2 separate regions of the Homo sapiens genome follow, and region 1 is linked to region 2. Evidence: fine-mapped expression QTL. Tissue or cell type: fibroblasts. Region 2 holds a variant in brackets; the other region holds the start of a gene. All regions are shown on one strand. Distances are from middle to middle. Region 1 holds the start of ERBIN (erbb2 interacting protein). Region 2 has its middle 66 kb from the start of ERBIN.

Region 1 (15,202 bases), 66 kb after region 2:
CGCCCGGCTAATTTTTTTGTATTTTTAGTAGAGACGGGGTTTCACCGTGTTAGCCAGGATGGTCTCGATGTCCTGATTGTGATCCACCCGCCTCGGCCTCCCAAAGAGCTGAGATTACAGGCGTGAGCCACCGTGCCTGGCCTACTCTGACTTTAAAATAGGAATGATGTGATACTTAACTAGTAAATAAAGTTTCTATGTAACATAGTTGGCATTTTTGAACAGGGCATTTAAGCATCTTACTACACCTCGAATTATGTTTAATTCCAATTTATTGGCTATTTTCATGGCATTTTTTATGCTAAACAGTTTTCTAAAATAAAATATTATAGAAAAATGTAAATTTATTAAGTGTGGGAATAAGTGAGGAAAAGAGCAATTTCATTACCTAAAGAAAGATAGTATTAAGTGAAAACATGCATTGAAGGGCAATAAGCAGTCTAACAGAAGTCTAAGTAGAAGTCTAAATAAACTTCTTTTGTTGATTTAATACTGCTCTGATTTGGAAAGAGGTATGCATATTGTAATATGATAGAAATAGATTATGATTCATACTAGGGAGGACTGGAGAGGAGAAGTGGATCAGAAGAAGGCACAAAGTTGAAAATTATTAGTTTGATCATTTGCCTCAGTTGATCCAGGACAGTCTTAGTTTTACATTTGCTGTCCCTGTGTAATTATTATTTATTGTTATTATTATTTTGAGATAGGATCTCACTCTATCACCCAGGCTGGAGTGCAGTGGCACGATCTCAGCTCATTGCAACCTCTGTCTTCTGGGCTCAAGTGATCCTCCCACCTCAGCCTCCCAAGTAGTTGGGACTACAGGCACCCACCCTATACCCAGCTAATTTTTGCATTTTTTTGAAGATATGTGGTTTCACTATGTTGCCCAGGCTGGTCTTGAACTCCTGGATTCAAGCGGTCTGCTCACCTTGGCCTCCAAAAGAGCTGGGATTACAGGCATGAGTCACTGAGCCCCACCCCTGTGTAATTATTAATAATGTCTTTGTTCACTCTCAAAGTATCCTACTTTGGATGATAGACTATATGGTCACCTTAGAAATAATGGAAATAGTGGAAGCATAGTACATATTATTGGTGCCTTTACTACGATTGGTCCAGTAGTACACTAGTCCCAGTAACTCAGGAAGCTGAGGTGGCACAATCGCTGGAGCCCAGGGGTTCTAGGCCACAGTGTGCTATGACTGTGCCTGTGAAGAGCCACTGTAGTTCAGCTTGGAGCAACATAGTGAGACCCTTGTCTCTAAAAAAAGAGTGCACTACTAGTAATAGCTAATACTTTTGAGTCTGCCAAGCACTGTGATACTGCGTTAAATACTTTATGAGCATTGTCCCATTTAGTTTTCCTAATAATCTGTAAGGCAGTATTATAATCTCCTTTCTAGAGAAGAGGATGCTCAAGTATATGTTTATAGGTGTTCAGGAACTTGCTCAAGGTCACTCAAGTAGCCAAGTTTCTAATTCAAGCAGTCTTGTTTCAGAAGCCACACAAATAATCATAATGCATTATTTATTTCTCTCCCCATATTTAAAAACTTCATAAGACATCTGAAAGAAATTCAGCTTTGATAGTTTACAAAATATATAGCATAGAAAAAAAGATTATTAAGCATATACAAGAGGAAAAAAAATCAGTTTTCCAAAAGCTTTTCACAAATAGAGGCAGACTTTCCATGCGATGCATAAAATATTTTAAAAAATATGCTTGAAATGTCGAAACATGTTATGGGAGAGGTGATTCCATTCTCAAAGTATTACAGAATCCATAATATTGGTTCTTGCATGTACAGCCTCTTTTGAGCCAAAGAACTTCTTTCCTGCATACTTGCCACCCTAACCTCCTGGCCTCTCTATCAAGAGTCTAAGATGGAAGTAAAAAGGGGGAAGTCAAATCCCTATTAAAAATACATGTTATAGTGCATTTTGATCTAATTGAACCAATGTTTCTAGACTTCATTCAAATCTAACCCTATTCTAGCCTGAAGATTCACTTTTCCCAAACACTACTCTACTAAAAACTGGTTTTAGGTAACCAGTTCTTTACTAGGGGTCTGGTAAAGGAGAAAAGAAGAATTATCATCCCAAACTTGTCCTTGCCCTCTATTTTTGTCTCCTCAATGCTCCTGTGCAGGTGCTTGGCTGGTATGGGGAAGTGACAGGGGTATCCTTTTTAAAAGTGGATGAGCTCTCCCTTAGAGCAGTTTTTCCCCCCGATGGATGCTGTGTACTTTCCTTGGAATGCTTAAGGCCCTAAGCTTTCCTTCAGTTGAAATAGCTTATCTCTAGCAGACAGTAATTCCTTTCCTGAGCCCAGCCATTGGGAAGGGGAATCCCAAAGAAAAGATTTTCTGCCTTTCACAGAGAATCATTCAGAGAATCACAACAGGGAACTTGAAGCTATACTATCAATAAACATTAGTTAACTTACTCTCTAAGGTGGTCTTGGAATTCAGTTAATTGTTGCAGACTCACAGGCAGCCTTGTTTAAGGTGGGGTTTTAGTTCTTCTTTAATCATAACTGAAAAGTTAAGTCCATCTTAGTGTAACGTCCTGCGGGAGGATTTTCAAAGGAAACTAATCTGTAAAGCATAGAATGAGAGTACCTTGTAGAATAAATGGAAGATTTGGCTCTGTGTGTGCTGCTTATATGAAACAAAATTAAATACTCAGTGATTAATAACAAAGATGAATTGTTGTTTGTGATTGCTGAACACTCTGATCATATACCTGCCATTTCACCCTTCTGTATGCACACAGATGCAGAATTCCAGAGAAAATACTTTTTAAACAGATTATTAAGGAAATATTTGACAAAATAGGTAACTACAGTTGACCTTTGACCACGCAGGGTTGACTGCATTGGTCAATGCAATTTTTTTTCAATAAATATATTGGACTTTTTTTTGAAGATTTGCAACAATTTGAAAAACTTGCAAACTGTGTAGCCTAGAAATACTGAAAATTTTTATATATGTCATGAATGCATAAAATATGTGTAGACACTAGTCTATTTTTATCATTTACTACCATAAAATATAAACAAACCTATCATAAAAAGTTAAAATTTATCAAAATGTAGGCACACACTTACAGACCAAACATGGTGCTATTTGTAGTGGGGAGAAATGTAAACAAATGTAAAGCTACAGTATTAAATCATAACTGCATAAAATTAACTGTCATGCAAACTGTACTACTGTAATAATTTCATAGCCACTGCTTGGTGCAATTGCAGCGAGCTTAAGTGTTGCCAGTATTCGCTTTAAGCTGTGTAATGCTAATCATCTCTGAGTGAGCAGTTCATCTCTCCAGTAAATTGCGTATTGCAGTAAAAAGTTCTCTCTCATGGTTCTCACGTATTTTCCATCATGTTTAGTGCAATACTGCAAAACTTTAATAACACTATGGCATCCATACGAAGCACCACTGGTGATGCTGGAAGTGTTCCCATGAAGCAAAGTCATGACATTACAAGAAAAAGTTGAACTGCTTGATATGTACCATAGACTGAGGCCTGCAGCTGAGGTTGCCTGGTATTTCAGACAGACAATTCATCTTGTAAACAGACAATGTAAACTTATGGTATGGACATAGTACATTACTGTGAATGTAGTTTCTCTTCCTTATGATTTTCTTAATAACATTTATTTCTCTACTTACTGTAGGAAGACAGTACATAATACATATAAGATACAAGCAATGTGTTAATCAACTGTTTTATGTTATCAGGCTTCTGGTCAGTAGTAGGCTTATTAGTAGTTGTTCAGTTTTGGGAGAGTCAAATGTTATATGCTCACATAGTTGGTTGGTGCCCCTAAATTCCATATTATTCAAGGGTCAACTGTATTGACAAGTGTATCCTGGATTCCATCCTCCTTTCTTGGTTTTGTAGAGACAAGGTCTCACCATGTTGTCCAGGCTGATCTTGAACCCCTAGGCTCAAGCAATCCTCCCGCCTCAGCCTCCAAAGTGCTGGGATTACAGGTGCGAGCCACTGCAACCGGCCAGATTCCATCCTCTTAAGGCCAGTGTATTAGGTGGCTCATTCTTACAGTATGAGTAAGCAGGACTTATTTAGCCATCAAAAGGGTCCTTTTATTGCCTGTAATCCTCTACTCTCTATATAACGCTCCAAGGAATGAGACTATATTTCCGTCTCCTATCAACTCAGCCTCAGCATATGTTATCTCTAGTTATCTCTATTTTTCCCTTCCAACAAAAGCTGCTTTGGGGAAACAATCTGATGAATTAGGTATAAATGACTAATAAGGATTAAAATATTACTTTTCCCAGGATTATGGTTTTGTGCTAGAGAAAAAAACTACTTAAAGGGATAAAACTCTAATGGCAGAATTTCAGGTGAGTTGGAGGGTTTTTGATTATAGGTACTTTTCTAGCCTAGATGGTAGTCTGTCAGATTGGTCCTGAGTGTGAGTATAAATTTTAAAAAGGCTAGGACCAGGGCAAGTCTTAGCCTAAAGCAGTGGCTTGATCAGTTAAGTTTAGAGAGGAGGGTTAGGTTTACTCGAATCTATGGCATCACATTTAAAGGGGTCTCGAATCAACCTGAGATTAGAAGCAACACTGGAATCCCAGAATCTAGCTGGTTTTCCACTAGTATGGGAGATATTCCATCCTGGGATGCTTTAGGAGAGTGACCCTTTCAGTTCAGAGCTATGCCACTGAGTTCTGATCAGGCGCAAAACGGTTTTTGAAAACGGAGCAAGAAATCTTCCCAGCGATGATTACAAATAGCTTGTACAATATGCTAACTTTAGCTTTTTATGCAATGGTTAAGATTCATTTTCACATAGATATCCAGCTTGGTAACACTGGCATAGCTGCTGCCATTTCCTAGCTTCCAGCGAATACTCTTACCTCTAATTCAGCACTGAATATATCTGAACACTTCAGTACTACCTGTAAATCTTCAACTTCTGCTGTATGCTAAATAACCTAACATCTGTATTAATTCCAGCAGTTCTTCAAGTAGTTAAAAATGCTCCCAACCTGAATAAAATGACTTGAATATCTTCGGCGTTATTTCAAGTGTTTGCAACTAATGTACAACTCATTTTGGTAAATGATTACTTGGTGGAATTTATGAACTCTTTCCATTGGCAAGCCAAAAAAAAAAAAAAAAAAAAGGTCTGTAGGGGATATAGCTCTTTATTCAAACTTGGTAATAAATAATTATCTCTAGAATACAGACGGAAGAACTGAACCAGGGACTTCAGGGACCCAGAGGCTAATTATCATCACTGTACACAGTTAAGTGCAGCAGAGAATGGGGGTGACGAATGGTTCGCTCCGCATTACGCTCCTTCTCTGGGTAAAACAAGGCCGTCTTTTCTGTGAACATATTTAAAGCAAGAACTGCAAAAACTGTGCAATGTTATGGTTGAGGCTTTCTATTTGCCATATGTGTTGACAGAATGCTTAAGAGTCTCTCTCCGCAATAAACGCGAACCCTGCCAGGCTGAATTATTAGGGCCAGCGCAATTCAACGACTGCACCACCACCGAACCGCTGGGGTTGGAAGCCTGCGTCGCATCGGAGCGTACCCATGTTTCTTCTAACAAAGGCACGATCTTGAGGCCATTTCGCGGGCCCTTTTCCCACTCCCAGCGCCAGCTTTGTCTCCCCGCCGGTATGAGGCTGAGACTTGGAGGAGGCTGAGCTGCGCCGCTGGGGAACAAGCTCGAAGGGCGGGCGTGGGAAGCTGCACCGCGCTGCCGCTGTGGTTTCCTGCGACCTGACCGTGCCATTAGAGGAAGTTGGAGTGCTGCAGCTGCAAGAGATACCTGCTGCCTTCAAATCAGGGCTGGACTCCAACAACCCCTGTGCACCGATTACTGTCGTACAAAGAAACTCCATCGGCCGGCGCGGCGGAGGCCTGTGGGCTCTCTATCTCTCTGGCTGGGCGCTGGGCCGCGAGCAGACAGCAGGGTCGGCGTTGCCAGCGTTCCCCACCCTGGGGGGCTCGGGAGTCCGGGAGTGCGGGGTCGGGGAGCGGGCAGGGAGCAGCGGGCAGGCCTCGAGGGGCCTGGGCCAGAGTGGGCCTCACGGCGCGCCTTGCACGCGAACCCACGGCCGCCGGCTGCCCCTCCCCCGGCCCCCGGCCCGCTGCCCCCAGCCGCCGACGTCGGCCCGCACCGCCCCCGCGCGCTGACTGGCCCGCGCAGGCCTCCTGCCCGGCTGTTGGCGGTTGGGGCGAAGCCGGCGGGAGGCCGCCCCGCCCCCGCCCCCGCCGCAGAGTCGCGGCGCGCAGCCTCTTCACCCGTCGCGGCCGGGGCGGTGGCGCTGTTGCCGCCGCGGCCTGTGAGGCAGTAACTCCCCTCCGCCCCTGCCCCATTCCTCCTCCTTTCTCTCCGCTCCCTCCGTCCTCCCTCCCCTCGCCGTCTCTCGCTCGAGTGAATGTGGCGCGGCGGCGCGGGACGCAGTCTCGGCCCCTGCCGCGGCCCCGCAAGCTCGTGAGGAGACGGAGCTGCCTCCTGCTCCCGCCCCCTGCGCGTCTCGGGGAGCCACCGCCGCTGGCGAAGGAGAACAAGCAGGGCAGCGGAGGGACGGTGGCGGGAAAACGGGAGAGGGAGGAGAAGAGGGTTCGAGGGCGAGTAGGGAAAGCGGGGAGGGACGGACGGAAGGACGGACGGCCCGACGGACGGCCCGGGGAGGGGGCCGCTATTGAGCCTGCCCGACTCCTCGGCTCCGGCTCCGGGTGGCGGCGGCAGCGGCGTCGCGGACGAAGGGCGCGGCAAGCGCTATCGAGACAATAACCCTGCCGCCCGGCTCTGGGGGCAACGGAGAGGAAGCGGTGGCGGCCTAGCGCGGCCGAGGCTCGCCGAGCGCCCGGGCAGCGTCCTCGCCCCCGCCGGCCGGGTGCTGCTGCCGTCCGGTGTGCCGGGCGCGCCGGTTGCCCGGAACCCGAGGCTCCCGGCGGCCGTCCCCTCCCCTCCCCCTCTCCGGTGCGCGCGGAGCTGGTTTTCCGGGTTCCCCTGGACGGAGCTGGATCCTGCTTCTCGCCAAGGCAGGAAGTGAGTTTCGCACTGCAATTCCGGGCGGTGTCACGAGTGAAAAGTTTTGTTTTTTTTTTTTTCGGCGGAGATCCTCGTTGGGGCTGGGAAACTCCTGCAAAACTCGAGACCAGGAAGCCAGCCCGCACCCCAACCCCCACCAAAGCCACCTACTCTTCTTCTGTGGGAGGCCAGTCCACATCCGCTCTCACCCGAGAGAGATATTCAGCTGGATCCAAAGTGACTGATGAAGGGAAGGAAATCATGTCAAGCGAAGCCTTGAAAAAGCTGCCCTGAGACGGTGTCCCGCCGAAAGGTAATTTTCACGAAAAGTGTCTCTGAGTCACAAAGTTCATGGGACTTTGTGACTCGGAAAAGAGATGATTCTTTAGTGTTTTTCACTCTTCTCCAAGTTGCCCTAAACCCTCCTTTTCTCATATCGAAGCGGTTAATAATTGAGGGGCTAAATAATCGAACTGCACCCCACCGCGTCCCTTCTCCCCCCTGCCCCCCCCACCATCTGGACTTTGAATTTTTTGGAAGAGGTTGTAAGAATGCGGTGGGACGAAAAGTTTTTAGTAATCCGAAGAACGATTGCCTTTGTTCAGCACAGGGGCCAGAAGTTTTGGCTTTCTGGAACGTATAGAGTGTATATTAAGTTGCTCAGCCAGGCACCTTCTGTTTGGGAAGAAAGTTTGGTCGCTGCAGTGAGTGATTTGCTGTTATTGAGATGGCTGCCGCGTTTGTTTATACTCATACCGATTATATTGGCGCTTGCGTTAATTGTATATAGAGGTATTTATTTTTATTTTTTTATTTCCAACCCTGATCAGTATATTTAGTTAGATTTTAGAAACCAAAAAATCTTGCCATTCTTAGTTGTTTTTCAGGGTGAGTAATATATTTCTTTAGTTGTGTGTAGTGTGTGTTTTTCAGACGTTTAGCGCCGTATAACTTGTTTAATTAATTGAAAGCAAGGATCGACTAGGCTTTTCTTGTAACTGATCCATTACGAAGAAAAAAGGAGTAAGGACTAAGAATAGGGAGAGATAATTAAACAACATTAACAACCTGTAAGACGTTTAATAGGACTTCTGTACAGTTCAGAACAGACGATGGGAGGGGAAGTAAAACGCTTAAAACGATTTTCAAGGGAATCACAGTGATTGTGATAAAAAGCTGTGCTTTTCGAGTAGTATGGTCTTTACATTTTTGTGTTGTCCCAAATGTTTTTGGTCGGTTCTGCATAAATAGTGATAGGTTCTGCCTACATCTGTGGGGGCAGGATTCATGAAGCATGGCAGACATTCCACCAGTCAGAGCTATGAACACTTCTGAACCAATGGGGACTAGTTTTGATAGCAGTAAACCCAAAGTTTTTTTCAGTGGTGTTTTAGTCTTTTTCTGTTTACTTTTTTTCCCGGTATTTTTGCGGTACAGGGAGGTGAAATACAATACTGTACTTTTGAATATATATTGAATAAATTTGGTAATCCTGTTGGTAGGTATATCCTAAATATATATTGATGTTTAGATTGCCTATGCTGTCTCACGTAATGACCGGAAACCCGAGGAGAGAGTTGATTTTCTTTAGTTCAAAGAGAAAAAATAAGTTTTAAAGATCAGGATCAAATTATTTCACAATTTGTTCTTTGCTACTTCAGCTTCATTAAGTACATCTCCAAAGGCAGTCCTTTATTTATTACTGTAGTTTTGATTTTTTTTTTCCTCCCCGGGGCATGGTCTCAGGAGATTCTTTTTTTTTTTCATTGTTGGTAAGATTTGTGAACCATGGAATAATTCTTGTTAAGTCAAACTAGCTTTATCAAAGAATTTAAAGTGCATAACTCATCTACTTTATGATTTTGGAACGTATCATTAGGCTGCAAAAGAGGTTATTCTTGGGCATCTGAAAGAGGTGAACAAAATAAATGGCATTGAACTTCAGTTTCCTTATATGGCTTATACTTGGCTTCAAAAGCAACAAAACCTTAATAGAGCAAGTCCCTTACAGAGAATTATCGCTTTATGAAGATGGTTATTTATTAGTAAATTTTGTATAAAAAAAGTATTGTAGCACTTGAAAATGACTATTTAAGCCTCTATTTTTAGATTTAGTTCTTGATTTTTTTTCTCAGGAGAAGAGTAGTATGTTTCGATGCAGACAACACGTTTTATGAAGTGAGGTGTTCACCTTTGTGTTTCTTTTTTTTCTCCTCAACAAGGCATAATTTACTTCGTAGTTTTCTTGGAATTCTGTTAGTTTATCACCGAATTAACTTAAATTTTAGGTTTTATACTATTGTGAAACTATAAGTATTTTCGAAGCTTTGTTTAAACTGTGACAAAGGTTTGAAAAGAGGTTAATAGAGGAGTCATCCGTTAAAATATTTTTAAATGGCTTCAAAATTTGGATATTCTTCTAGTATGGTGTGGATTTTCAAAGATTAAATTGGCAAATAGAGAGTACTTCCAAAGTCTATATTGCACAAAATACACACTTAAAGGCTCTGTTTATTGAAGGTAATCATGAATTTTCAGGACTTCAACTGATTCAAGTAGTACTGTTACGAGGTCTCCTTGCCATTTGAGATCAAACTATTGTAAACTTTATGTATAAAAAGCTTACAGAGGTACAAACATGGAAACCAAATTTTTATTGTATGCTGTTTCTTAATGAAGTGATAACTATAGATACATTAACATATATCATTGGCAAATCTCAAAAATCGATTATTTTACACATTGTTGGTATTGCACTATTAGTAGTAAATAATACCCTTTAAGAAATAGTTAAAAGTTTCAGAAAATAGGTGTATATTTCAAAATTACTTATTTGAAATAATTGCTTACGGATAATACGATTTAGACTTTAAGCTGCTTTTGTTTTGGAAATAGATTATGGCAGTACTTACAGAGTATTTGGGATTATGCAGAATTTTAGTGATGCTGGGTAGCAGTTTCTTTTTTATTTTTCGTAATTGCTGCTTATCCAGATTCTCCTTACATACCCTACTTGGCTGCTTGCATTTTGACTCTTTGCCTTGCTCATTCATTTCTTGAATTTGTTACATGCTTGCTTCCGTTTTCTTTTTCTGGGAATACATCTCTATTATAAACCTCTAAAGATGTCTTTGTCTTTTCCTCTTTTTTTTTTTTTTTTTTTTCGAGATGGAGTCTTGCTCTGTTGCCTAGGCTGGAGTGCAGTGGCACAATCTCGACTCACCACAACCTCCACCTCCCGGGTTCCAGCGATTCTCCTGCTTCAGCCTCCCAAGTAGCTGGGATTACAAGCGCACATCATCATGCCTAGCTAATTTTTGTATTTTTAGTAGAGACAGGTTTTGCCATGTTGGCCAGGCTGGTCTCGAACTCCCGACCTCAGGTGATCTGCCCACCTTGGCCTACCGAAGTGCTGGGATTACAGGTGTGAGCCACTGAGCCCGGCCTACTGCTAACTCCCATTTTTCAGATTCACTTTTTAGCTGTCTCTTCTTAGGTTTCCTAATTGTAAAAAAGAAACTTAGCTGCTATTCAGCTTTCTCTTCTGATTCCCTTAGCTTCCTATATTTATAGTTAGCTTCATTTACCTAGCCTTATTTTCTCTGTGTTCAGTTGGTCGTTCTTAATTATATTTTGCCATTTCCCTCTTTTCCAAACTGTTAGTCTATGTTTATCACCTCAAAAAACTGTTCAAAACATGCAGTGGAAAAAGTTTATCTGATCTTATTTTATTAGCCCATTTAATTCTGAATATCCCCTTTGCATTTCAACTAAGTGTACATGCTGGTATTTTAACTTTATATTCATCAGTATATTGCTTTGTTTATTTTGAGATGGAGTCTTGCTCTGTCGCCCAGGCTGGAGTGCAGTGGCAAGATTTTGGCCCACTGCAAGCTGCGCCTCCCCCAGGTTCACGCCATTCTCCTGCCTCAGCCTCCCGAGTAGCTGGGACTAGAGGCGCCCGCCACTGTGCCCGGCTAATTTTTTTGTATTTTTAGTAGAGACGCGGTTTCACCGTGTTAGCCAGGATGGTCTTTATCTCCTGACCTCGTGATCTGCCCACCTCGGCCTCTCAAAGTGCTGGGATTACAGGCATGAGCCACCGCTCCCGGCCATTGTTTGTTTTATACTTTGTTTTCTCAGTTTTCCTTTTTCTCTTTAGTGTTCTTAAAATTGACTGTTAAGATAATACCAGGTTGTTATTTATTCTTATGTATTAAGACTTTGTAACCCTCTCTACCTTCTTGTTTTATTATACTTTTGGCCTCTTAAAACATACAGATATATTTCTCTGTTCCTTCTTCTCTGTACCTTCCTCTTCTGTCCTACCTTTCAAGTTAGATGTCTTCTCTGACACAGAATCCCTAAAATTTTGAAATTATCTTTCTTTGATTTCATGAAATAAGCACAATAGTACTCTATCACTCTATTTTTGTCACTTCAAATTTTGTTCCAGACACCATTGAATGAAGGTCTTGCCAGGCTTTAAGTGATAGTGTGGAAGACGATAGAAAAGGAGAATATCTAAAAATTCACTTTGTGGAAGACGATAGAAAAGGAGAATATCTAAAAATTCACTTAATAAGACTCTACTTATCTGGAGGTTATTTATTATAGCTTTAAAAGCATATTGAATGTAGTAGAAAAACTAGAAAATAAAAAATGACATCTCCTTAATCACAACAGGTATGACAGAGTCTGGGGACTTCACTTTTAGGGCCATTATTATTCAGAGCCCATTTACTTATGTACATAATGAGCTGTTTTTGGTTCTTTGGTATCCCAGAAGGCGTGAGAAAGGTACGTTTACAGCATTGTGAAGTTATGACCTGTGGTGTTACAGTGAAGCAATAGAAAAATGGAAAGATGACTGAATAACTTAGAAAATAATCTGGGACAACTTACTTTGAGGCTAAGTGCCTTGTACATTTCATTTCCCTGTAGGAGGATTCACTCTGTTATAATATGGTATAATTACAAGAAATAGTAATAGTCCTAAGGCAGCTGTTCTCAGACTTTTTGGTTTGACTCAAAACAGAAATTAAAAAAAATTAATTTATTTGAAAATAAGCTATTGCATGTTAGTGTAACATTGTTTTAATAAAAATATAATTGTTTTCTAAAATAAATAGCAAAAATAGTGGCAATGTTTTATATTTTTGCAAGTCTCTTATGTTTGGCTTAATAGAAAACAGCTCGATTCTCATATCTGCTTCTTCACTCCATCTGTTACAGTATGTTCTTTTGGCTAAAGTATATGAAGAAAATCCAGCCTTATACAGGTATTTGGTTGGAAAAGGGAGGAAGATTTTCTTTCTTTTCTTTCTTTTTTTTTTTTTTTTTGAGATGGAGTTTGCTCTTGTTGCCCAGACTGGAGTGCAGTGGTGCAGTCTCGGCTCACCGCAGCCTCTGCCTCCCGGGTTTAAGCGATTCTCTTGCCTCAGCCTCCTGAGTAGCTGGGATTACAGGCATGCGCCACCATGTCCAGCTAATTTTGTATTTTTTGTAGAGACAGGGTTTCTCCACGTTGGTCAGGCTGGTCTTGAACTCCTGACCTCAGGTGATCTGCCCGCCTCGGCCTCCCAAAGTGCTGGGATTACAGGCGTGAGCCACCGCGCAAAGTGCTGGTCACAAGGTCAGGAGATCAAGACCATGGACAACACAGTGAAACCCTGTCTCTACTAAAATACAAAAAATTAGCTCGGTGTGGTCACAAACGCCTGTAATCCCAGCTACTCAGGAGGCTGAGGCAGGAGAATTGCCTGAACTCGGGAGGTGGAGGTTGCAGTGAGCCGAGATCGCGCCACTGCATTCCAGCCTGGCGACAGAGCAAGACTCCGTCTCAAAAAAAAAAAAAAAAAAAGACATAAACCTGGGAATATGTAGTGGTACTATTGCAGCTTGAAGGCATTGCCTTTGTTCTTGTAAAGGTGTTAGCTGTTGCAACCATTGCTTTTGCAACATCAGTGTAAAATGTAAATATAATGGAAAAGGGAAAAATGACATTTCAATATTATAAACACAGTTTTGACCTGGAAGGTTCCTTGAAAGTGTCTCAGGGACTTCCAGAGACTGTGGACTTCCAGGGCCTATGGACTGCACTTCAAGAACTTAGGTGGAAGTTGGGATTTATGGAACTTTCATTAATTAAATTTTTTTTCTTGTCTGTTCGTATTGGATTCTGGGAGAGTGTTGAAGCTTGATCTTTAAGCCCACTTACTTGATTTTCATTTGTTTTCAGTTATTTTGTTACTTGTTTTTGGAACAGAGTTTCTAAGAATTCTAGTTTTTCATAGGAGTTATTTTTGTTTTTATTTTTTTGAGACAGGATCTCACTGTGTTGCCCAGGCTGGAGTGCAGTGGCATACTCACGGCTCACTGCAGCCTCGGACTCCTGGGCTCAAGCTATCCTGTCACCTCACCTTCAGCCGAGACTATAGGCATGCACCACCATGCCCGGCTAATGTTTTATTTTTTTTTGTAGAGATGGGTTCTTGCTCTGTTGTTCAGGCTGGTCTTGAACTCCTGGCCTCAAGCAGTCCTCCCTCCTTGGTCTCCCAAAGTGCTGGGATTATGGCATGAGCCGCTGCACCTGGCCCAATTTTGGTTTTCTAGCCCTATTTTTGGTCTGCATGTAACCTTTAATCTCTGAGATGTTCTTTTAACATTGTCTTTTGTTTATTCTACTAACACTACAGAAAATTTGATCTTACTGTGCTTTTGGTGTATGTCATGCTTTTTGTTTTTTCTTCAAATACTAGATTTTCATGGTAGTCAAAGTTTTATATGATGACCTAGTCTCTACTGTATTGGTCATTTAAATATATGTTCCCAGCCCAATGAATCCTTCTTCTGGCTTTGGTGATTGCTTAGAAGAGGAAAGGGAGAAATATTTAACGAGTTTCTCTTTGAAGGTATGTGGGTAGCTTGACCTTTTGGTACAGGTGCTTACTGTTCCTCAGGAGGCAGTCTCCTTTTTTCATAATCACACTGTCCAAGTGTCACATCTCCTACATACATAGAGCTGTACTAGAGGCTTTAGCTACACAGTGTTTTACTATGGTTTTGCTCTCTGGCTGACCGCTCAGGATATGCTTCTCTTAATCCTTCTTGCTAAGAAAACTCATCTTTTTTGGAGATCCCACTTTCTTCTTGTTTTGGGTGTCTGGTTCCTCAAGTGTATTGCATTTTGTTATTTCCCCGACCCCAGCCTACTTTGTATTCTTTATAAATTCCGTTCTGTTCTTATCTGTAGGTATACCCCTCCCAGGTTTTCAGCACTGCTATAGATATTTTTAAATTAAATTTTAATTTTTGAAACAATGACTGACATATGGAAAAGTTTGAACATTTTTTTTCCTGAACCATTTGACTAAGTTGCTAACATGATGCCCTGTCGTCATCCCTAAATATATATTTTTTTTTATTTGAGAGCTCTGTCGCCCAGGCTGGAGTGCAGTGGCGTGATCTTGGCTCACTGCAAGCTCCACCTCCTGGATTCACGCCAGTTCTCCTGCCTCAGCCTCCCAAGTAGCTGAGACTATAGACGCCCGCCACCACGCCTGGCTAATTTTTTGTATTTTTAGTAGAGATGGGGTTTCACCGTGTTAGCCAGGGTGGTCTTGATCTCCTGATGTCATGATTTGCCTGCCTTGGCCTCCCAAAGTGCTGGGACTACAGGCGTGAGCCACCGCGCCCAGCCCGTCACCCCTAAATATTTTAATGTTTATTTCCTACAAACAAGGATATTCTCCTGCATATAATGACATCATTACCATCAAAATCAGAAAGTAAACATGAATATATTACTAACATCTGAACCTCAATTATCCCAATAATGTGTTTTACAGCAAACTATTCCAGTTTGGAATCATGTGTTACATTTTGTTGTCATCTCTTTATTCTCCTTCAATCTGGAATAATTTCTTTCTCTTTTTTTTCAAGGCCTTGACACTTTTGAAGATCTGAAGATGACAGGCCTAGTTATTCTGTAGAATACCCCTCAATTTTCATTTGTGTGATATTTTTCATGATTAGATCTTTGATTAGATTTTTATGATTAGATCTTTGGCAGGGTTATTGTAAAAGTGATGCTGCATTCTTCTTATTACGTCTTATCAGGTGGCAGGCAATTTCAGTGTGTCCTATTATGGTATTCACTT
Region 2 (15,202 bases):
ACATGTTGATATAGTTTGAATGTATATTCCCACCAAATTTCATGCTGAATGATAACCCCCAATGTTGGAGGTGGGGTCTGGTGGGAGGTGTTTGGATCATGGGGGCAGATCTCTCATGAATGGCTTGGGCCATCCTCTTTGGTAATAAATGATCTCTTGGTCTGAGATCTGGTTGTTTAAAAGTGTGTGGCATGGCCCCTACTCTTGTGCTTACTCTTGTTCCCGCCATGTCATGTGCCTGCTCGCCCTTTGCCTTCCACCATGATTGGAAGCTTCCTAAGACCTCCCAAGAAGCAGATGCTGATATGCTTCCTGTGCAGCCTGCAGAATTATGAGCCAATTAAATATATTTTCTCTATAAATTATACAGTCTCAGGTCTTTCTCTTTCTTTCTTTTCCTTCCTTCCTTCCTTCTCTCTCTTTCTTCTCTGTCTTTCTTTCTTTCTCTTTTTCTCTCTTCTTTCTCTTTCTCTTTCTTTTCTTTTCTTTCCTTTTCTTTCTTTCGAGACAAGATCTCACTCTGCCACCCAGGCTGGCGTGCAATGGCTTGCTCATAGCTCACTGCAGACTTGATTTCCTAGGCTCAAGCAATCCTCTTGCTTCACCTTCCCAAGTAGCTGAGACTATCTGGGTAGGTGTGAGCTATGAGGTGTGAGCCACCACGCCCAGATAATTTTTAAACTTTTTGTAGAGATGGGTTTTTGCTATGTTGCCCAGGCTGTTCTCAAATGCCTGGCCTCAAGCAATCCTGGCCCCGTAAAGTCCTACAATTACAGCCGAGATCCGCCATGCTCTATTTCTCTATTGCAATGCAAGAAGGGCCTAACATACATGTCTTAATTGTTTTTTAAGCCAGAAGACATGTCATCAACAAAATTCATATGTTCAAGCCTTAACGTTCAATGTGACTATATTTAGACATAGAGCCTATGAGAAGGTGATAAAGGTTAAATGACATCATAAGGGTTAGACCCTAATCCTATAGAACTGATGCCCTTATAAGAAGAGACAGAGCAGCCGGGCGCAGTGGCTCATGCCTGTAATCCCAGCACTTTGGGAGGCCAAGGTGGGGAGATCACTTGAGGTCAGGAGTTTGAGACCAGCCTGGCCAACATGGTGAACCTCCATCTCTATTAAAAAAATGCAAAAACTAGCTGGGCGTGGTGGTGGGCACCTGTAGTTCCAGCTACTCGGGAGCCTGAGGCAGGAGAATTGCTTGAACTGGGAGATGGAGGTTGCAGTGAGCCGAGATCACGCCACTGCACTCCAGCCTGGGCAACAGAGCAAGACCCTGTCTAAAAAAAAAAAAGAGGCAGAGCCTGGGTACAGCAGCTCACATCTGTAATCCCACACTTTGAGAGGCTGAGGTGAGAGGATCACTTGAGGCCAGGAGTTCAAGACCAGCCTGAGCCACAAAGTGAGATCCTGTCTCTATAAAAAATAAAACTTAGCCAGGTGTGGTAGTGTGTGCCTGTAGTGGCAGCTACTCAGGAGGCTGAAGCTGGAGGCTCATTTGAACCCAGGAGTTGGAGGTTGCAGTGAGCTATGATTGCACCACTGTACTCCAGCCTGGGCAACAGAGTGAGACCCTGTCTCAAAAAAAAAAAAACAAAAAAAAAACCCTAAAAAAAAAAAAAGCAGAACAGGCAGAGGTACAAGGCTCTTGGTCTGTCTGTCTGTCTGTCTGTCTGTCTCTCTCTCTCTGTCTTTCTCACTCTCTGTCTCTACCATGTGAGGACACAGTGAAAAACAGGCCATCTGCAAGCCAGGAAGAAGGCCCTCACCAAGAACAAAACCAGCTGATATCTTGATCTTGGACTTTTCAGCCTCCAGGAATGGGAGAAATAAATTTTTGTTGCTTAAGCCACCCAATCTGTGGTATTTTGTTATGGCAGCCCAAGCTGACTACTATGACGTATATTTTATGATTAAACTAGTGATACATGCTGATGGGACAGTTTCAACAAACATAAAAGGAATAAAGAAGTAAAAATCATTTGAAACCCTGAAACCCGGAGATAATCATGTTATGTTATGCATCCTTCCAGGCTTCTTCCTATGCATGTAGAAAACTTTTCACAATCCAGATGCTGTTTTGTAACCTTTTCTTAGCAATAAACACAAGTGTACATGATGGTTTTGTTTTGGTTTGTTTGGTTTTTTTGAGACGGAGTTTTGCTCTTGTTGCGCAGGCTAGAGTACAATGGCGTGACCTTGGCTCACTGCAACCTCTGCCTCCCGGGTTCAAGCAATTATCCTGCCTCAGCCTCCTGAGTAGCTGGGATTACAGGCATGCGCCACCATGGCCGGCTAATTTTGTATTTTTAGTAGAGATGGGGTTTCTCCATGTTGGTCAGGCTGGTCTTGAACTCCTGACCTCAGGTGATCTGCCCACCTCAGCCTCTCAAAGTGCTGGGATTACAGGCACGAGCCACCACGCCCGGCCACGTGGTCGTTTTAATGCACTGCAAAATACTCCACTGAACAGATCTACCATAATGTATTTAATCAGTCCCCTAGTGATAGAGATGTAGGTGATTTCTAATTTATCATTATTGTAAACAATGCTTCATGAAGGCCTTTTATGTATATCTTTGCATGTTTGTCCAATTTGTTCAGTGGGATGAATTCCCAGAAATTAAATTTCTGGGCCAAAGGATATGCTTATTTAAAATGTTGACATCCTGTATATTGCCAAATTACCTTCCAGAAAGGCTGAACCAATTTATACTCCTACTGTGCATGAGAGTGCCCACTGCTCCACACCCTTGCCAAACTGGCATGCTTTCAACAGCAGTAAAAATAGGTTCTTGTCTGCTTTTCTCCTATGAGTCCTACCAAGTGCATGATGTGAAAGTGAATGAGAGGAATATAAAGTTGACAGATGGGAGGTATTTTGGTCACTGTAATGTTTTATCTAAAGCACACCATTTTCCTCTCAAAACAAGTGTGATAGATAAGCCCCCTTCATTTTTTAGTACAAGTTCTAGGACATAATTTCCTAAATGGATTGATTCCTTAGAGAATGAATGTCTCTGAGGATGTGGAAATTATTCAAGCCAAATGTGCTTTGGGCTGATAGAGGATATACAATTTTGACATAGCAGTATCTATGTGACCTCTTTTTTAAAGATGCAAAGTATAATATTTTTGCCCTGTGCTATCCAAAGTGTCATACTGCAGCCTACTCTGAATGTACTCATTCATTTGCCTGAAGTTCCCACAGAGAAAAGTTTTCTCTGACTTTGTTTTATATTGAAAAAGTTTTTTAATTGAAGTATAATTTACACACAATATGAATAATTTTTCTCTTTAAAATCTGATTGTGAATAACTGCAACCTTCATAGATAACCTTTCATTACATTAAATGAGAGAGAAAAGCTCTTTTTTTTCCTCGAGACAGAGTCTCACTCTGTTGCCCAGGCCGGAGTGCAATGGTGCAATCTCGGCTCACTGCAACCTTTGTCTCCTGGGTTGAAGCCATCCTCCTGTCTCAGCCTCCCAAGCAGCTGGGATTACAGGGGTACGCCACCACACTCAACTAATTTTTGTATTTTTAGTAGTGACAGGACTTTACCATGTTGGCCAGGCTGATCTCAAACCCCTGACCTCAGCTGATGCTCCTGCCTCAGCCTCCCAAAGGGCTGGAATTACAGGTGTGAGCCTTCGTGCCCAGCAGAAAAGCTTATAATTAAACACACACTCTTTGAAAAGCACAGAGAAAAGAGAATGGAGTTTTACATGCAGCTATTTCACTCCTTAGTTGTATGGTCTGAAGCACATAATTTAGCACAATACGCTTCTTTTACTCTCATCTGATAAACTAGCAAAATGAAATCTACACTACCTTCTCCATAGAGATGTTGGAAGCACATCCAATATCTCTAGGAAGGTCCTTAGCACTATAGTGAGTTAAATTATATATATTTTTAAAAATGTGCATCCAGTCAAATATATCTAATCTACTTGTATCTGATCTTAAAGTTTTTGTGCTTGAGGGGAATGTATTTCTTTTTCAAATGAAAACATGTTGATCAGATAAATGTTTACGATGGAAAATTATCCTTTTGTTTTGGCATTAATGTCAATTAAAAGCATTCTGAAACTGTTCAGCTTCACTGATGATATTAATGAACCTTACATGAGAAAAAGCCAGAAAATAATTAGCATAATTATAAAATGTGAACTGTACATTAATAATTCTCTTTGTTTTTTCCCTTTTAGCCACTTAATAAATTGTGTGTATCAAATTATTATAAATGTGGTACTTCTGATGTTAGCAGAATTATGTTTTAAAAGGCATAACAATAATATTTGTTTAATTTAGAAAAAAGAAAGATCACTTTACATCCTGTTATCCTAGTGATACTGTGAATACAATTGGTTAATGCAAATATAATTCATACTACTGAATTGTACACTTAAAAATGGTAAGATGATAAATTTTATCATCTTTATAAATTTTCAAATTTATATTCTAATATCGTCTTTCTTTTTATTTATTTATTTAGAGACAGGGCTTGCTCTTTCACCCACCTGGCCAGAGTGCAGTGGCACTATCATAGCTCACTGTAGCCTTGACCTCCTGGGCTCAAGCCATCCTTCTGCCTCAGCCTCCCTAGTAGCTAGGACTATAGGCTCTCAGCACCACACCCGGCTAATTTTGTTTTGTTGCTTTGGTAGAGATGAGTTCTCTCCATGTTGCCCAGGCTGGTCTGAGATTCCTGGTCTCAAGCCCTCCTGCCTTGGCATCCCAAAGCACTGGGATCACAGGCATGAGAGCCTTGCCCTAATGTGCCTGCCTGTCTGCCTGCCTTCCTTCCTTCCTTCCTTCCTTCCTTCCTTATTTCTTTCTTCCTTCCTCTTTTTTTTTTCTTTTTTTTTTTTTTGAGACAGAATCTTGCTCAGTCGCCCAAGCTGCAGTGCAGTCGCACAATCTTGGCTCACTGCAACTTCTGCTTCCCGGGTTCAAGCAATTCTGGTGCCTCAGCCTCCCAAGTAGCTGGGATTAGAGGCACGCACCACCATGCCTGGCTAATTTTTGTATTTTCAGTAGAGACAGGGTTTCACCATGTTGGCCAGGCTGGTCTCAAACTCCTAGGCTCGAGCAATCCACCTGCCTGAGCCTCTCAAAGTGCTGGGATTACAGGTACCCAGCTTTTCTTTCAACACACTGGTTAGGGGTGAATGCTTATCCCCTCAGCTCTCTGTCTGCTCCCCACGAGTGACAGCTTGGGATGCTTGGGCTTCTTCCCTTGTCTCACTCTCTCCTCGGGAAAAAGCACCTTCTTTGGCAAGATTGAGGGAAAGAATTGCTAAATGTGTGACTCAGCCCCTCTTTCTCTCTGAGTGGCCAGACCTTAAGGACTTGACTTACCTTGCAATAAGTTTCCTAGAGTAAGCCCTGCCCTGCAAAAAGGACTGAAGTTAGAAGAGGTTTATTTTAATTCAGGGAAGTGAGTATCAGTAAGCCCATTTGGCCACAGACTATGCCACATTCTCCAACCAGCTTTATTAGCTGTGAACTAATGTTTTTTAAAAAATAATTTTTATTGTGGTTTAAAAAAATAGATGACATAAAATTTATCATCTTACCATTTTTAAGTGTACAATTCAGTAGTATTAATTATATTTGCATTAACCAATCTCTACCAGTCTCCAGAACTTTTTCCTCTTGCAAAGCTGAAACTCTATATCCATTAATCAACAATTCATCATTTTCCCCTCCTTCCAGCCGTTGGCAACCACCATTCTACTTTCTGTGTCTATGATTTTCACTACTCTAGATACCTCATAGGAGTGGAACCATGCAGTGTTTGTCCTTTTTGTGACTGGCTCATTTCACTTAGCATGATGTCTTCAAGGCTCATCCATGTTGTAGCATGGTGTCAGAACTTCCTTCCTTTTTAAGACTGACATTTTGAGCTCCCAGATTCCCTGCTTCTATGTCTCCACTGACTCAAAACTGAGAGCTAGAGGGAGGGTGTAACTAATTTTCATCCCCTCAAGCCCCATCCAACTGGATAATAGTGTGTTGTGGTAGACATCTATTGTTTTCTCTGGCCAGGGTCAAATAGCAAATCTGGACAGAGGTAAAGTGAGACTTTACTCAAAAGGGTTATTGCAGTAAGAGGAAGAGGACTATTATAATAGAGAGAATGCTCTGATGGTCAACTGTAAGATCTGCAAGCATCTCCAAGACCAGGCAGAAAAGGGCTTTTCTTTTACAGGGAGGAGGAAAGCAGGCTGGAAGGAAGCAGGTGAGGTCTACCAGGATGAGCAGGTTATCCTGCGGTGCGTCAGGGAACAGTTCCCCCTGCTGGGTACGCTAGTCTCAGTAGGGGCCATTAAGGAGGGCTTGTTCCTAGCTCTAATGTTTAAGGGTGGGCCAAGTTCAGGGACTTGGAAGAATGACAGAGGCCTGACTAAAGTTTAGCCCAGTTAGCAGGCATTTTGTCCAGATTGGCCTGTGGAAACAAACAGGTCAGCTAATCATTTATGAGTCAAAGAATGGGAAATTAGAGGATCTCTATATGGCTTTGTCATAGTTAGACAAGGGGGTCACTCCAAGTCTCTAAGTCGTATGGGGAAGGGCAATTATTTGCTGTAAGTCATTTCCTGGAACACAAAGGTTGGAGGGAGGCTGGGCGCAGTGGCTCATGCCTGTAATCCCAGCACTTTGGGAGGCAGAGGCAGGCAGATCATTTGAGGTCATGAGTTTGAAACCAGATGGCCAACATGGCAAAACCCCGTCTTTACTAAAAATACAGAAATTAACCGGCGTGATGGTGTGCACCTGTAGTCCTAGCTACTTGGGAGACTGGGGGAGGAGAATCACTTGAACCCAGGAGACGGAGGTTGCAGTGAGCCAAGATCTCACCACTGCACTCCAGCCTGGGCAACAGAGCAAGACCTTGTCTCAAAACAAAACAAAACAAAACAAAAAAGTTGGAGGGAGATGGTTTCCTGATCCTTGCTGTTTTCCAGGGGCACAGGGCTTGACGTTGTCACTAATACCCTTTCCTACTCCAGGTGTTGACAGAACCCCTCTTTCTCATGGAAAATCCACCTCACTTATTTTGAGTGAGGCTGATCCCACTTTCTACTCATACGGATGGACATGTGGCCCAGGCCTTGCCAATTCAAATCACTTATTCTCTGATTAGTATTATTGCTCCAGCAAATATGTAGATGCTCCAAGCAGTACCGATCAGTCTCTCCTGAGATTTGATCATGTAGATGCTGGGAGAGAACCCTGATATGAACCCAGCCATGCCTAGCTTAGGTCTACCTCCAGACTTCCCAGTTATGTGAACAAATAAAACCCCTCTTTGCTTAACTGTGTGATTCTTTTGTTATCCCCCACCCCACAAATAACTATGTTGTGGGCACTGAGGCCTTGTTGGCTTGGGGTGTTTGAAGGATCCTGGCTACCTCTGATTCTGGAGGATTTCAAGGGTCTTATTTTAGTTCCAACAGTGAGACTGTTGACTGCAGAGTTGTGGCTCTATTTCAAGCTTGAGTAATTTCATCTGCCCTCCTTGAAAAATTTTACTGCAAGATATTTAATATTCTTTCTTCCTTCATAGACTTCTAAACATCATGGAATCTCCTTGATCATGTTTCACTATTCAAAGGTAAGTCCTGGCTGGATGCAGTGGCTCATGCCTGTAATCCCAAAACTTTGGGAGGCCAAAGCAGGTGAATCCCTTGAGCCCAGGAGTTTGAGACCAGCCCAGGCAACATAGGGAGAGCCTGTCTCTACAAAAAGTTTAAAAATTAGCTGGGTGTGGTGGCGTGTGTCTATAGTCCCAGCTACTCAGGAGGCTGAGGTGGGATGATTGCTTGATCCCAGGAGATGGAGGCTGCAGTGAGCCAAGAGGTCTCACCCCTGCTTTGGAGGGAAAAAATATAGTATCCCAACATAAATTTTTTAAAAAAATCCTGTTTTTCCTTTAAAAAATAAGCTGTAATGCCCTAGATGTTAAATTGATTTTCAAGTTATTATTATTATTTTTAATAGAAATGGGATCTCATGCTGTCCCCAAGCTAGAGTGCAGTGGTATAATCATAGCTCACTGCAGCCTCAAACTCTTGGGCTCAAGAGATCCTCCTCCCTCAGTAGCTAGGACTACAGGTGCATGCCACCATGCCCAGCTAAGTTTTGTTTTGTTTTGTTTTTGGTCTGGTAGAGATAAGGATCTGAATATGTTGGTTTAGGAACACCTGGCCTCAAACGATCCTCCTGCCTCGGCCTCCCAAAGCACTGAGATTACAGGCATGAGCCACCACACCAGGCCTCGAGTTCTTTTTGATAAATTATATGAACAATAGATTAACATAAAGAATGGAAGGAATCGTTTTTGCGAGTTTTCAGGGATAGTGCATGAAAAGGCCTCATAGAAGAAATAAAATGGGGACACTCATATAAACCACAAAGCTTTAGTTTACATTTGACATTTTCCCAACTTCAACAGATAGATCTACTTAATGACTAGATTGATCTGGTAAATTAGAAAAGTCATGAAATGGATCATGAAAATGATTTAAAATGTTTTAATTATGGAAGGGAAAAAATAAGAAATAGCAGCTAATCTTCCTAAGTAAATGTGAAAAAAAAAAAAAAGGTAATTTAACAAATATTCCTGGAATGCCACTTATGTGCTAGTCACTGGGGATATAGCAATGAACAACACAGACAAAATTTTCTGCCGTCATG[A/G]ATCTTCTAGTAAAAAATGCACCAATAAAATAAAATGATGAATCTCCAAGAATAAACAACATTTGTGTTCCCAAGGCAAGGGAGCCTTTCACTGACTTGACATTTTGCTGCTCTCTGTTTGCTGGAAATTGCCCTATACCAGCCTGGGCAACATGACAAAACCCCATCTCTACCAAAACCACAAAAATTAGCCAGGCATGGTGGTGCATACCTGTGGTCCCAGCTACTCAGGAGGTTGAGATGGGAGGATCACTTGAGCCCAAGAGGTTGAGATCGCAGTGAGCTGAGATCACGCCACTGCACTCCAGCCTGGGTGACAAAGCAAGACTCTGAAAAAAAAAAAAAAAAAAAGAAGGAAGGAAGGAAGGAAAAATAAATTGTACTATACCAAAATGTTACAGTGTTCATCTCTGAGTGATTTTTTTATTTCTCCTTAATATTCTTCTGCATTTTCCAAATTTTCTACAATAAGCTTCTATTACTTTTTAATCAGAGAAGTAACTTATTAGGGGGAAAAAACCCTAATAAACTAGAAGTTGAAATCCTTCAGTGCAGAGGGCTGACCTGAATACTTGCCTTTGGCACCTTCCTGAACTGAAAAAGTCTAAAAAGCAGGACTTGTTGCTTTCACTTTGGGTAACTGTCCCCCTCCCTCCTCTCATTCTTGAGCTTTCCTGATGTATCCTAAAGCAATTTGTTTTATAGTATCACATACCTTTTTTTTTGTTCACTTTTAAACATTCTGGGTGCCTAGAGCCTTGTCTCTTTCTTGCCTCTCTCTCTCTTCTTCCTGACTACCTGGTTCTTCTGACCTTTTCTCTACAAAGATCACCACTGTTCTACCTCTCTGTGGACCAGATAAACCCTATTACTCCACATTGCCCTTGTCCCTTCCAAGTCTAACTACCACTTTTCAACAAACTGAACTCTCTCTCGGTTACTATGGCATCCCCTGAAAAAATGTCAGTCAAAGCTTTCTCCTATACGCTTACATTTCTAAAAGTTGTTTAACAAATTTACGAAAGAATTTTTTTAGCCCCTGATGGGCCGAAGCATTATGTTACAGTCTTTGAGAACTTAAGGTCATAATAGATAATTCTTTCATTTTGTTTTTTATAATTGGTTTAATCAGAATTTTATTGTTACAATCAATAGTTGCTTTACTTTTCTCTCTCTTTAGTTTAAAGAAATCCCTAGCAGTTTCCCTATTTTTTTTTATTGGTTCTTAGTATGAAAGTTGCATTGACTTTTTTTTTTTTTTTTTTTTTTTTTTGAGATGGAGGTTTGCTCTTGTCGCCCAGGCTGGAGTGCAATGGTGTGATCTCTGCTCACTGCAACCTCTGCCTGCCGGGTTCAAGCGATTCTCCTGCCTCAGCCTCCCAAGTAGCTGGGATTACAGGTGCCTGCCACCATGCCAGGTTAATTTTTTGTAGTTTTAATAGAGACAGGGTTTCACCATGTTGACCACGCTGGTCTCAAACTCCTGACCTCAGGTGATGCACCTGCCTCAGCCTCCTAAAATGCTGGGATTACAGGTGTGAGTCACCACACACAGCCACATTGACTTTTATCAATGTAAAGGGAGAAGTCACTTGATATTTAGGTAAATTGTTTAATAGTATTTTATCTACTTTTTTCAAATTGGTAAGGTGTATTTTTCATGCCTTAAAAATGTCTTTATTGAAGTATAACATACAGTAAAATACATTTAGTGTATTTAGTGAGCTTTAGTGTACAACTCAGTTTTTTTTTTTAACATAGGTATATTCCCATTTAACCACCACCAGCTCAAGACACAGAACACTCCCAGCAACCCCACAATTTCTCTTATCTCTTCCCAGTCAATATCCTCTTGCCCCATACTCCTAGCCTACTCTTGCCAGAATAGTTACCACTATTCTGACTTCTATCACCATTTATAAGTTTTGCCTATTTTTAAACTTGAAATAAACAGAACCACCCAGTATTTACTCTTTTGTTTTGGCTTCTGTAACTCAACATTATTTTCCTGTTCAGTTGCGTCATCATTTTTTTCTTTTTTATTACTGTATGGTATTCCATTAAATAAATATACTTCAATTTATATATCTATTCTCCTGTTGATGGACATTTAGGGGTTTTTCGATTTTTTAGTATGATGAGAAAAGTTATTACAAACATTCTTGTACATGTCTGTTGGTGGACATATGCACTCATTTCTCTTGGGTATATACCAAGGGGTGGAATTGCTGGGTCGTAGAGTAGACATACTTCTACTTTTGGTAAAATTCTTAACATATTTGCATGGCACAAAATTCAGCAGGCACAAAAGAGTGTACAGTGAAAAGTCTCTCTCTTATCTACATCTCAGTTCTACAGTTCTCTTCTCCAGAGGAAACCATATTACCAGTTTCTTACGGAAACATACTTTGTATATAGAAGTATATGTATGTATAGTCTTGTGTTTTACACCAAAGCTACTACACAATCCAAACTCCTTTACACCTTACTTCTTTCACTAAACAATTTATCTTTGGGATTAGTCTATATTAGTAACGTTGAACTGCTTCATTCCATTAAAGCAGCGGCCCTCAAACTTTTTGGCACAAGGCACTGGTTTTGTGGAAGACAGTTTTTCCACAGAGGTCAGGGGCTGGGGAGATGGTTTTGGGATGAAACTGTTCCACCTCAGATCATCAGGCATTAGATTCTCATAAGGAACACACAACCTAGATTCCTCACATGTGCAGTTCACAAACGGGTCCGTGCTCCTATGAGAATTTATTACTGCCTCTCATCTGACAGAATTCGGAGCTCAGGCCGTAATGCTGGCTCACCTGCTACTCACTTCCTGCTGTGCAGCCTGGTTCCTAACAGGCCATGGACCCGTACCAGTCCATGGCCCAGAGGTTGGGACCCCTGCACTAAATGACTGCATAGTATGCTAACTTGCACATCTAAGAATATATCTGTAGGATGAAAACAGCTTTGGGCATTTAAAATTTTGCCTTAATTATATAAGAAAGCCTGTTTTCCCCCACTTTCACCAACACAATGAGTTTGTAGACATTTTAATTCTTGCTAGTCTTAGGTGGAAAATGGTATCTCATTGTACCCTTAAATCTTAAATCTCCCTTAATATAAGGAAGGTCTTTCCATATGTAAAGATTTATTTTTATTTCCTGACCTGTAAGCTGTTTATATTGTTTGTGTATTTTTCTTCGATTATTTTTTCTTATTTTATAATAATTATTTATATATTAAGGGAATTAGCCCTCGGTCTGTGATATGAGTTACACTTTTTTAAATGAAAATTATTTTATTTTAATTTTGAGACAAGGTCTCACTCTATTGCCTAGGCTGGAGTCCAGTGGCACAATCATGGTTCACTGCAGCCTAGACCTCCCAGGCTCAAGAGATCCTCCCACCTCACTCCCACCTCAGCCTCCTGAGTAGCTGGGACTACAGGTGCACACCACCACACGGGGCTAACTTTTTTTTTTTTTTTTTTTTTAGAGATGGAGTCTTGCTATGTTGCCCAGGCTGGTCTTGAACTTCTGGGCTCAAGCAATCCTCCCAGCTCAGCCTCCCAAAGTGCTGGGATTACAGGCATGAGCCACCACCTCTAGCCTGAAACTCATATAATACATAGCAATTTAAGCTCCCACATATATTAATTTAGAAAGGATTGCAACTTAACAAACATTTATTGTGCCAGGCACTGCGAAAAGTGCTGAATATATAATAAAGATTGATTTGTACCTTTAAAACACTTACAATCTAAGAACAGAAAGACACTCCCAAACCAAATGATCATTACTTTATCATTTGGTAAGTTTTATTATAGGATAGACGTGTACACTACATGCACTTCAAGCTCAACGTGTCCAAAACTGAGTTTGTTGTCTTCTTCTAGGACCTCTTTTTCCATTGTTCCGTATCACAGATAATGGCATCATTAGTCACTCAGCTGCTTTGTTTAGAAACCTTGGAGTGATCCTTGAGTCCTTTCTCTCCTTCACTCTCAAAATGGATTTGCCATTTATCTGAAAGATCATTGTGAAGGACTGTAGGAAGGAGGAGGCTGGTGGCTGAGAAACTATTAATTGCATTAGTCCAGATAGCAATCGATGAGGTAGCAACCATGAGAATGGGGAAGAAGACAGAAGAGGGACTTGATGATTTTTAAGTATAGCCAGTGAGGAAGAGTTGGGGATAAGTTCCACATTTCTGGCTGAGTGGATGATGGAAGTCATGCATAGAGATGGGGATGGAGTGCGTAACTGTTTCAGGAAGGGAAAGATACAGGATTCAGTTTAGACATTTTGTGTTTGAGGTCTGGTGTGACAACCAAATATAATTTTAAGTACAGTACTGCCAACTCCCACTTTCCTGAGGTCATAAAAGGGCATGTTACTATGGTTAATTAAAAATCGATATGGATAATTCTTAAACTGTCCCTCTTTATTGCTCACGGCTTTCCTGGGTGTTCACAGTCTTCCTGGGCGCCCTGGTCACTGGCCCTGATCCAGCCACACCTTCTCACAGGTACTCTTATGAAAATTAAGCCCTGAAATAGGCAGAATATTGTCTGGTTTGAGTCTCACAACTTTTTCTCCTAGATAGAATTAAGGAGGCAATGAACAGCCAAAACAGAAACAGGAGGGAGTTGTGAGAGAGTAGCAAAGGGGTTGAATAATTTGAAGCATAGTTAATTGGCCTTTGAATAATCAGATTGCTACAAAAGTATCAGCTTATTTACTTTTGAAATATTATATTACCCCCATACCAGGAAAATAAAGGAATGAGGGGGAAATTACCTATAATCCAGTCACTCCCATAGGACCACTCTAAGCATTATGTAATACTATACTCGCTCCCATTTTTTCCCAGCCTCCTTTTCAAATGGTTATAAGTCACAGTGTAATCATTAATTGTCTAAAATGAATAGTGGTATCCTGGTGGCATAAGATAATTTTTATAAGTGGCCTTAGAGGAACATTGAATATAAAGTAAATGATCATTGTACCCTCTTTACCCTGCTATAAATCATTACTCTCTTTAAGGACATAGAAGGAAATGTGGGCTTATGTTCCAGGTACCTAACATACAAACAGGAAGTCGTGCAGACCTGAGACAGTCTGGTATATTAGCACTGAAATACAGCTACCTTTTAAATTAGTAAGAACTTTTTTTTAACTTATGTATGTTTTGTGGCATGGTAGCATGAAAAGATCACTGGTCTTAGAGGTGGGAGACTCAGGCTATAGTCCTAGCTTTGGCATTAACTGTGTGGTCTTGGGTTTAGTTTTCCTTCTGTACTAAATCAATTCAGATCTCCCGCATACCTGTCAGTGAGTGCGTTAATGTGACCCTGTTTGTCCGTGCCTGATACATGCCCACCCCTGAAGCTGGAGGTGAGATCACCCCTCTCTACACTAAAAAGACCTTGAGTCGGGAAAGAGTCCAGCCCCCAGAATTCCATGGGATGGGTTGTTACCAGAAGGGGAAATGGATTTGAGCAGGCAAAAACACTAGATGTTATCTAACTTTGTTCTCCGTATCTTTATCCCCAAAATGAAGGGATTGGTGTAAAAAGTTCTATTAATAAGTCTCTCTAGATCTGCCTTCACAGGATTGAAAGTACAGAATTGTACCAGTTGAAGTATGAAAAAAACTATGCTCTTCATTTGACTTCTAATTTGTGGTATCTACTCTCTATGACTTCAGGGCAATTTCATGAGTTCAGACCAGGAGTTTTAAACCAGGTTCCTGAGTGACTTTCCTGTTTTTGTGAGCTGTCTGTGTATACTTCCTGCAGAGAGAATGTTTTATTAATAGCAACATATGCCCTGAAACAACATACTTCTTTGACCCCAACACCGTTTTTATCTTTGGAAAACCGATGATGTGTTACTAAGTGTTAAGAATAGTTTATTATTTACTGTGCAGTTGCCAAACCGAATTTATTTTTACTCAAACTGGACAGTACCTGGCTAATACAATGACTCCCCCAAATTCAAGTTTTTCGCGGCATGTCGTCTTATTCTACAAGCTGGGAGAGTGTGTGAGATCAAAGGAATGTGCAAACAGGCCGGAGCCATGGCTCACGCCAGTAATCCCAGCACTTTGGAAGCCCGAGGCAAGCGGATCACTTGAGCTCAGGCATTCAAGACCAGCCTGGGCAACATGGAGAAACCCGGTTGTATTAGGGTTCTCTTAGAGGGACAGAACTAATAGGATATATAAAATATTATATATATATATCATATATACACATATATCATATATACATACATATATATCATATATATACACATATATATATCATATATATGAGAGTTTATTAAGTATTAACTTACATGATCACAAGGTCCCACAATAGGCTGTCTGCAAGCTGAGGAGCAAGGAGAGCCAGTCCAAGTCCTAAAACTGAAAAACTTGGAGTACAATGTTTGAGGGCAGGATCAGCATGGCAGAAAGATAAAGGCTCGGAGGCTAGG

What was found. PIP is the estimated chance that this variant, and not a neighbour inherited with it, causes the effect.
Region 1: it holds the start of ERBIN, and the variant in region 2 is fine-mapped to the expression of ERBIN in fibroblasts (GTEx, PIP above 0.99).

What each region holds. Positions count from the first base shown.
Region 1 is chr5:65,919,454-65,934,655 of GRCh38, forward strand. It overlaps ERBIN (erbb2 interacting protein), which reads left to right and starts at 7,122. Exons shown (of 26, transcript NM_001253697.2): 1 at 7,122-7,353. RefSeq lists enhancers at 5,222-5,846, 5,346-5,565, 6,471-7,095, 7,056-7,275 and a silencer at 5,886-6,975.
Region 2 is chr5:65,853,218-65,868,419 of GRCh38, forward strand. No RefSeq gene overlaps it. Among named protein-coding and RNA genes, the nearest start is that of ERBIN, 66 kb to the right of the region's middle. The variant A/G (reference allele first, on the strand shown) is at 8,721.